Regions from separate parts of the Homo sapiens genome. Here region 2 is linked to region 1. The links come from fine-mapping of genetic effects on gene expression. A gene starts in region 1. The other region holds a variant in brackets. All regions are shown on one strand. Distances are from middle to middle.

The links. PIP is the estimated chance that this variant, and not a neighbour inherited with it, causes the effect.
Region 2: its variant is the best candidate, but not a certain one, in a credible set for the expression of TXNRD1 in transverse colon (CEDAR, PIP 0.78).

What each region holds. Positions count from the first base shown.
Region 1 is chr12:104,212,965-104,217,344 of GRCh38, reverse strand. TXNRD1 (thioredoxin reductase 1) reads right to left here and starts at 1,566. Exons shown (of 17, transcript NM_001093771.3): 1 at 1,452-1,566. The coding sequence starts at 1,542. RefSeq lists enhancers at 558-1,173, 1,174-1,790 and a silencer at 1,614-1,703.
Region 2 is chr12:104,264,654-104,269,001 of GRCh38, reverse strand. The region is part of intron 3 of TXNRD1 (thioredoxin reductase 1); the gene reads right to left. The region is part of intron 1 of TXNRD1-AS1 (TXNRD1 antisense RNA 1); the gene reads left to right. It also overlaps the pseudogene RPL18AP3. Among named protein-coding and RNA genes, the nearest start is that of TXNRD1-AS1, 14 kb to the left of the region's middle. RefSeq lists an enhancer at 2,487-2,656. The variant G/TG (reference allele first, on the strand shown) is at 2,478.

The sequences.
Region 1 (4,380 bases):
GAGCGAAACTAAAAAAAAAAAAAAAACAAAATTGTTAAGATGGTAAATTTTTTTTTTTTAACCACACACAAAAAGAATGTAGCTAAAGAAAAACAGTAAATAAATGGAAGGACATAGATATCAAGAAGATCCTGAGGATGGCACATGAAACGTCAATTTGGGATGCACCTGCTCAAACTCCTTCATTGTACTAATGGCCACAAATTAGCTGCCTGACCTGGACCTTGCCTGACCTTGCTCCTACCCTGTTCCTTTATTCTTCCCTTCCCCTAATCCAAGTCCTTAACTCCAGCAGGATATACAGGCCTCCCTATCTCTAGCATGGTCTCACCGGCTGCTTCCCCTAACAAGAATGTTCTCCCTTCAGACACCTCTACCAAATCCTACCTCATCTATGGGAGCTGCCATCCCCACTTGGCTGTTTTTACCACTCCTTTTAGCCCTTCACCATATGCTGCCTTGTAACTAAACTGTAAGCCTTTGAAAGAGGCAGATCCTACAGCATTTAATAATTCTAGCCATTGGGCAAGGCACTTTTTGGAGCCTCACTTTCTCAAGCCTATAAAAAAGGTGGAGGCGGCCATATGACTATGACCAGGGCTTTTGAGTCAGATGGCCTCAACTGGTATCCCAGCTCTTCCACTTACTAGTTGTGTGCTTTGGGTAAGTTTTATAACCTCTTTGCTTCTCAGTTTCTTCATCTGTATAATGGGGTTTATGATAAATCTCTCAGTATGGCTGGAAACATGAACCAAGATTATTACCCATGTCTAGTGCTTCCAAAGGCCCCTCTCATGTCAGTGCTTAGTAACCACTAGCCATTATTGGCATTATCCGGACAATGGAGAAGAGACTGGGAGCTTTCTCTTCTGGAAGAACAAGTGAAAGGATAAAGCGGGATGATGGTGGGAGAAATGTGCCCAAAATTCAAGGGGATGGAGAAAGGGGGCCGGGAAGGCGTGTCGGACAAGATTCTCGATGGAGGAGGATGCTGGGAGTGGGCCGGGGGCTTCTGGAGAGGTGAAGGGGCACCCCCGGACTCGGCTGTCGGTTTGGTCGCTTCCCCCGTAACCTTTCATTGGAAACACGGTGCTTGTAGGAAGAGGACGCCCTAACGGGCCCTGAGCGAAATCAGGCGGGTCGCTGCCGAGATCTCGGTTCGGTTTCCGACAGGTTTCCGGGCAGGTCCTCGCGGCGGGCCCGCTCCTCCTTCCACCTCCCACCTCTCTCACAGCCAGCGGGCGGGGCAGCCCTCGGCCGGCCGCCGGCCTCCGTCTCCCGGGGTGACCTGGGGGAGCGTTTCTGGGGTCTCCAGCGTGGCGCGCGGTCAGTCACTGACTCCAGTGAGGGGCTTCAAGGCCAGGGCTCCGGGGCACTTTATCCCCAACCCCGGCCGGAAGGCCCGCTTCGGCCCGTCGACCTGGGGACCAGGCCTTCGCCCTCGGTCGTACCTGACCTACGGCGGCCATCGCCGTTCTTGCCTTTCGTCTGCAGCTCCGTTGGGGCGGCCGCCGCCACTGCCTTGCCCTCGGCGCAGCCCATGTCGCACAAGGCCCTGTGGGAACTGACGGAGCCGAAGGACGCCTGGCGGAGGCCGCGAGCCCCCTGCCGGCCGCGGGTCGGAGAACGCGGTGGGCGGGGCGCTCGGTGACAACAGCGAAGTCATAGCCCGTGTATCTTCTTCAAGGTCGTGAATTTTTTTTTTTTAACAGGAAAGAACGGTCGCTAAAGGTAAATTGGAAAATGCAGAAATGGAAAGGAGAAAAGAGCGCACCACCCAAAATCCTTATCCTTCGGCTGGGCGCGGTGGCTTACACCTGTGCACTTTGGGAGGCCGAGGTGGGAGGATTGATCGCTTGAGCCCAGGAGTTTGAGACCATCCTGGGCAATGTAGAGAAACCCTGTTTCTACAAAAAATAATTTTAAAAAATTTATCCTTCACACAAACTACTTTTGCTGTGTTTACTATTTCTTTCCAGTTTTTCCCCTCTATGCATAGTTTTGCATCCAGCATTTCACTTAATACTAGTATTTTCCATACTATCACATAGTCTTGTAAGCCTCCCAGATAACCACCTGGCTTCCACTGTCACTTCAGTCTTTGCCTCTTTGACCGTAGATGAAGCATACACTGAACATCGTAGTTTCTTTTTAATACACTTTATTTTTTAGAGCAGTCTTTTTTTTTTTTTTTTTTTGAGACGGAGTCTCACTCTGTCACCCAGGCTGGAGTGCAGTGGCGCGATCTCAGCCCACTGCAACCTCTGCCTCCCAAGTTCAAGCGATTCTCCTGCCTCAGCCTCCCGAGTAGCTGGGACTACAGGCGTGTGCCACCATGCCCAGCTAATTTTTTGTATTTTTAGTAGAGACGGGGTTTCACCGTGTTAGGCAGGATGGTCTCGATCTCCTGACCTTGTGATCCGCCCGCCTCGGCCTCCCAAAGTGCTGGGATTACAGGCGTCAGCCACTGCGCCTGGCCTTAGAGCAGTCTTAAGTTCACAGCAAAAAGACCATCCTATTTGAACAGAAATCTGATCACGCCCCCCTCAACTCTACCCCCACCCTTTACTTTACTCTATTTTATTTTTACCAGCACTGAGAGCCTTCTAACTTACCCTATATTCTCTGTCACCTGCTCCCACTCCCTCCGCCAGCCTCCCCACGACACCCTGCCCATGTAAACGCTGCCAAAATAGAACCTTTGCATTTTTTTCTTGTATCTTGGCCTTCAGCTTGGGCCAGGTGGCCTCCCCCACCTCTTGAAGGAAAGCAGGGAAGAAGCGGGAAAATATTAATTTGAATAATTATAATAATGTAATAGTCCATCCACTAGAGCTACTGGACGATTACATAGCCTATTATTAGATGTTTAGTTTGTTTTTTATTTTTAAAAATTATGAATAAGGCTGCAGGGAACATCTTTGTGTTTATAGTTTTAAGGCTGTCATTACACGTTGCCAAAATTGCTTTTTTGGAACTGTGGTTCCCATTTGAACTCCTACTAGTAATGAATGAGAGTGATTTTTTTTAACACCAAACCACATTGCGGCACATCAGGTGCACAGTCACTGTTCTCTATCAGTGCAGTGCTCTGTTTTTCCTTCTTTCAATTAACTAACATATGGTAAGCATCCAACTTATGCCTGGCTTTGTTTAGGGTTACAAGGTGACTCAAATTCCCTGGTCTCAAGGAACTTCCACCCCAGCTGAGATTTAGTGAACTTGTCTGGTCACCAGATGCGTGGCAATTGTGTGGGCCCTTTGTTTTCATTTGGGTTTGTGGACAAGCTTATATCCTGCTTCTCTGGAGAGCAGCCCAGAGTCAAAATGCTCTTGGAAAACACTGGGTGTTTATTTGCTTAAACACAGAAAACAAATAAAACTGAACCAAAGGCTTTTTTTTTTTTTTTTTTTGGAGATGGAGTCTCGCTCTGTTGCCCAGACTGGAGTGCAGTGGCACGATCTCGGCTCACTGCAAGCTCCGCCTCCCGGGTTCACGCTATTCTTCTGCCTCAGCCTCCCTAGTAGCTGGGACTACAGGCGTCCACCACCACGCTAATTTTTTTTGGTATTTTTAGTAGAGACGGGGTTTCACCATGTTAGCCAGGATGTTCTCAATCTCCTGACCTTGTGATCCACCCACCTCAGCCTCCCAAAGTGCTGGGATTACAGGCATGAGCCACCGTGCCCGGCCACCAAAGGCTTTTAATAACAGACATTGCACAAAGCTAAAGTAAATCTCTCTCTCTCTCTTTCTTTTTTTTTTTTTTTTTTTGAGATGGAGTTTTGCTCTTGTTGCCCAAGCTAGAGTGCAATGGCACAATCTTGGCTCACTGCAACCTCCACCTCCCAGGTTCAAGTGATTCTCCTGCCTCAGCCTCCCAAGTAGCTGGGATTACAGGCATCAGCCACCATGCCTGCCTAATTTTTTGTATTTAGTAGAAAAAGGGTATCACCATGTTGGTCAATCTGGTATCAAACTCCTGACCTCAGGTGATCCACCTGCATCAGTCTCCCAAAGTGCTCGTATTACAAGTGTGAGCCACCGTGCCCGGCCCTAAAGTAAATCCTAATAACAACTTCATCCAAGTGTTTGGTGTCTGTAGTAACTAATGCAACTAAGCCAGGACCCTTTAAAAGCAAAGTTCCCTCCCTCTGCGAGCCAGGTCTACAGTTCCTTGGTTCCACTGGAATGACTGTTTCAGAGATTTTTTTTTTAAATATGCTATTCAATTTATGTTAAAATTACCATTTTATCATCAAAATTCCAACTGTGGCTGTCATGTATTTTTCTCTATTTAGTACATGTATTTAACTAAGATGATGGCTTTCCTGTTATTTTAAACACCTAGGCAAAAGTATCTGAGAGTCATGTGCCTA
Region 2 (4,348 bases), 52 kb before region 1:
ACCCGAGAGGCAGAGGTTGCAGTGAGTTGAGATAGTGCCTGGGCAAAAAGAGTGAGACTCTATCTCAAAAAAAAAAAAAAAAAAGAAATGACAACAACGGATTTATAATATGACATAAATTTAATTGATAAGCAGTGGCAGGGTTTGAGAGGATTGGTTCCAGTTTTGAAAGAAGCTCTACTGTACGCCAGGTGCGGTGGCTCACGACTGTAATCCCATCACTTTGAGAGGCCAAGGCGGGTGGATTACATGAGGTCAGGAGTTCGAGACCAGCCTGGCCAATGTGGTGAAACTCCGTCTCTACTAAAAATACAAAATTAGCCAGGCGTGGTAGTGCAGCCTGTAGTCTCAGCTACTCAGGAGGCTGAGGCAGGATAATTGCTTGAACCTGGGAGGCAGAGTTTGCAGTGAGCCGAGATCGTGCCACTGTACTCCAGCCTGGGGACAGAGTGATACTCTCTTTCTTTCTTTTTTTTTGAGACGGAGTCTCGCTCTGTCACCCAGGCTAGAGTGCAGTGGCGCGATCTCAGCTCTCTGCAAGCTCAGCCTCTCGGGTTCACGCCACTCTCCTGCCTCACCCTCCGGAGTAGCTGGGACTACAGGCGCCTGCCACCATGCCCGGCTAATATGGGTGGGTTTTTTTTTTGTATTTTTAGTAGAGACGGGGTTTTACCATGTTAGCCAGGATGGTCTCCATCTCCTGACCTCGTGATCAGCCCACCTCAGCCTCCCAAAGTGCTGGGATTACAGGCGTGAGCCACCGCACCCAGCCAGTGATACTCCATTTCAAAAAATAAAAATAAAAAATAAAAGAAAGAAAGAGAGAGACAGAGAGAAAGAGGAAGGGGCCGGGTCCAAGTGGCTCACACCTGTAATCCCAGCACTTTGGGAGGCCAAGGTAGGTAGGTGGATTACCTGAGGTCAGGAGTTTGAGACCAGCCTGGACAACATGATGAAACCCTGTCTCTACTAAAAATATAAAAAATTAGCCTGGCGTGGTGGCAGGTGCCTGTAATCCCAGCTACTCAGGAGGCTGAGGCAGGAGAATTGTTTGAACCCGGGAGATGGAGGTTGCAGTGAGCCCAGATTACGCCATTGCACTCCAGCCAGGGCAACAAGAGCAAAACTCAGTCTCAAAAAAAAAAAGAGAGAGAGGAAGGAAGGAGGGAAGGAGGGAGGGAGGGAAGGAAGGAAGGAAGGAAAGAAGGAAGGAAGGAGGGAAGGGAAGGAAAGGGAAGGGAGGGAGGAAGGAAGGAAGGAAGAAAGGAAAGAAAGAAAGAGAAAGAAAGAAAGAAAGAGAGAAAGAAAGAAAGAAAGAAAGAAAGAAAGAAAGAAAGAAAGAAAGAAAGAAAGATACCATCACATCTAGGAACACCTATCATGATATCAACACCATGAACATTATACATAAGACAGGTGGGGCAGGTCATGGAAGGTTCTACGGGATAGTCTCAGAAAAAAGAAAGAAAGGAAAGGAAAGGAAAGAAGGAAAGGAAGAAGTAAGGCAGGCTGGGCATGGTGGCTCATGAGACTCCAGCTCTACAGAAAATACAAAAATTAGCTGGGTATGGTGGCACATACCTGTACTCCCATCTACTCGGGAGGCTGAGGTGGGAGGATTGCATGAAGCCAGGAGTTCAAGGCTGCAGTGAGCCAAGATCATACCACTGCACTATAGCCTGGGCAATAGAGCAAGACAGACAGACAGACAGAAAGAGGAAAGAAAGAAAGAAAGAAAGAAAGAAAGAAAGAAAGAAAGAGAAAAGAAAATAAAGAGCTATATATAAAGGTTTCTTCCTATTATTATTAATTATTATATTATTTTTTTTTTTTTTTGAGAGGGAGTCTCACTCTGTTGCCCAGGCTAGAGTGCAGTGGCGCGATCTCGGCTCACTGCAAGTTCTGCCTCCCGGGTTCAGGCCATTCTCCTGCCTCAGCCTCCCAAGTAGCTGGACTACAGGTGCCCGCCACCAGGCCTGGCTAATTTGTTGTATTTTTATTTTTTATTTTTATTTTATTTTATTTTATTTATTTATTTTTGAGACGGAGTCTCGCTCTGTCGCCTGGGCTGGAGTGCAGTGGCTCGATCTTGGCTTATTGCAAGCTCCGCCTCCCGGGTTCACACCATTCTCCTGCCTCAACCTCCCGAGTTGCTGGGACTACAGGTGCCCGCCAACACGCCCGGCTAATTTTTTGTGTTTTTAGTAGAGACGGGGTTTCACCCTGTTAGCCAGATGGTCTTGATCTCCTGACCTCGTGATCCGCTCGCCTCGGCCTCCCAAAGTGCTAGGAGTACAGGCGTGAGCCACCGCGCCCGGCCCTGTTGTATTTTTAGTAGAGACAGGGTTTCACCGTGTTAGCCAGGATGGTCTTGATCTCCTGACCTTGTGATCCGCTTGCCTCGGCCTCACAAAGTGCTGGGATTACAGTCGTGAGCCGCCACGCCCAGCCAACTAATTTTTTTTTTTTTTTTTTTT[G/TG]AGATGAATTCTCGCTCTGTCACCAGACTGGAGTGCAGTGGCGTGATCTCAACTCACTGCAACCTCCACCTCCCGGGTTCAAGCGATTCTCCTACCTCAGCCTCCCTAGTAGGTAGGACTACAAGCATGCGTCACCATGCCCAGCTAATTTTTGTATTCTTAGTAGAGACAGGGTTTTACCATGTTGGCCAGGATGGTCTCGATCTCCCCACCTCGTGATCCACTCACCTTAGCCTCCCAAAGTACTGGGATTACAGGCGTAAGCCACCGCACCGGGGCTCTTCCTAGTATTATTATCCCATGAGGAAAATGAACAGGCAATTCAGATAATGAAATACAACACAGTGACTACAATTTAGATAGTCCCAGCTACTTGGAAGGCTAAGGTGGGAGGACCACCTGAGCCCAGCAAGGTACACATAGGAAATACAACATACAGGAAAAAATATTGTGCCTCATTAATAATCAAAGTGATACAAATTAAGATAAAGAAATCTGTTTTTACCTCTCCAATAGGCAAATAATGATTTTTAAAAACCTATTATTATTTCTTTTCTTTTTTTTTTTTTAAGATTTTGTGTGGGACTGGCTCAGTTTGTCCAGCCAGATCACTTTTTTTTTTTTTTTTTTTCCACCGGGGCGTTCCTGAGTTTATTTGGGGCACACCCGGACGAGGGCCCTGCACCTAGAAGAAGGTGTTGGGCCTCTTGGTGGTGAAGCGTGGCTTGTGCTGACGGCGCAGGACCCGGTGGGGCAGCGGGAACTTGATCTTGGAGTCGTGGAACTGCTTGACAGCCGGCCGGCGGCACTTGCTGGCCGCGATCTCCTCCACCTTCATGATCTGAATGGAGTGGGCTCGGGCGCGGTGCCGGGCACCCATGTCTCGGTAGCACTGGGTGACAGCGCCTGCGGTGGTCAGGTCCCGGTATTCCCGGTACATGTTGTGGGTGCCGCTCCGGGAGTCATAGCGCAGCCAGATCCTGAAGTTCTTCACCCGCAGGGGGGACTTCTCAAACACCTGCCCACAGTAGACAATCTCCCCTGAAGACTTCTTCATCTTCTTTAACTGAGATACAAAGTACCAGAAGCGGGACTTGGCGACGACATGATTAGGCGCAAAGATTCGCATGCGGTAGAGGGGCGGCGTGTGGCATTTGGGGGTGGGCAGGCAGCGACCCACTACCTTGTACTCTCGTAGCGTGCCCGAGGCCTTCATGGCGTGCTCTCCGCGTTCGCCGCCACCCGCAAAAGGAAGTTTTTTTTTTTTTTTTTTTAAGACGGAGTCTCACTCTGTCACCAGGCTGGAGTGCAGTGGTGTGATCTCAGCTCACTGCAACCTCCACCTCCCGGGTTCAAGCGATTCTCCTGCCTCAGCCTCCCAAGTAGTTGGGACTACAGGCGCATGCCACCACGCCCAGCTAATTTTTGTATTTTTAGTAGAGACGGGGTTTCACCATGTTGGCCAGGCTAGTATTGATCTCTTGACCTCATGATCTGCCTGCCTCAGCCTCCCAAAACACTGGAATTACAGGCAGGAGCCACTGCACCTGGCCCAAAACCTATTATTATTTCTTACTACTAAGTACAGGGAACTCTTTGAGCTTATGAAGTTATTAATTAGTACACACCATTTAAAGGGCTCTAGAACCTTAGAATTGTTCATACTCTGACCCATAAATCCATTCCAGTAATCTATCCTAAGAAAATAATTCTAAATACAGCAAAAACTTCACGTACAAAGAAAAACATTTCTAACCTATTATTCCACAATAGCAAAAAATTGGCAATAGACTGTCCAAATATAGTAGAATGGCTAAGTAAATACATGGACTATTTTGTAGTCATTGAGAAAATTAAGAACTTATATAACA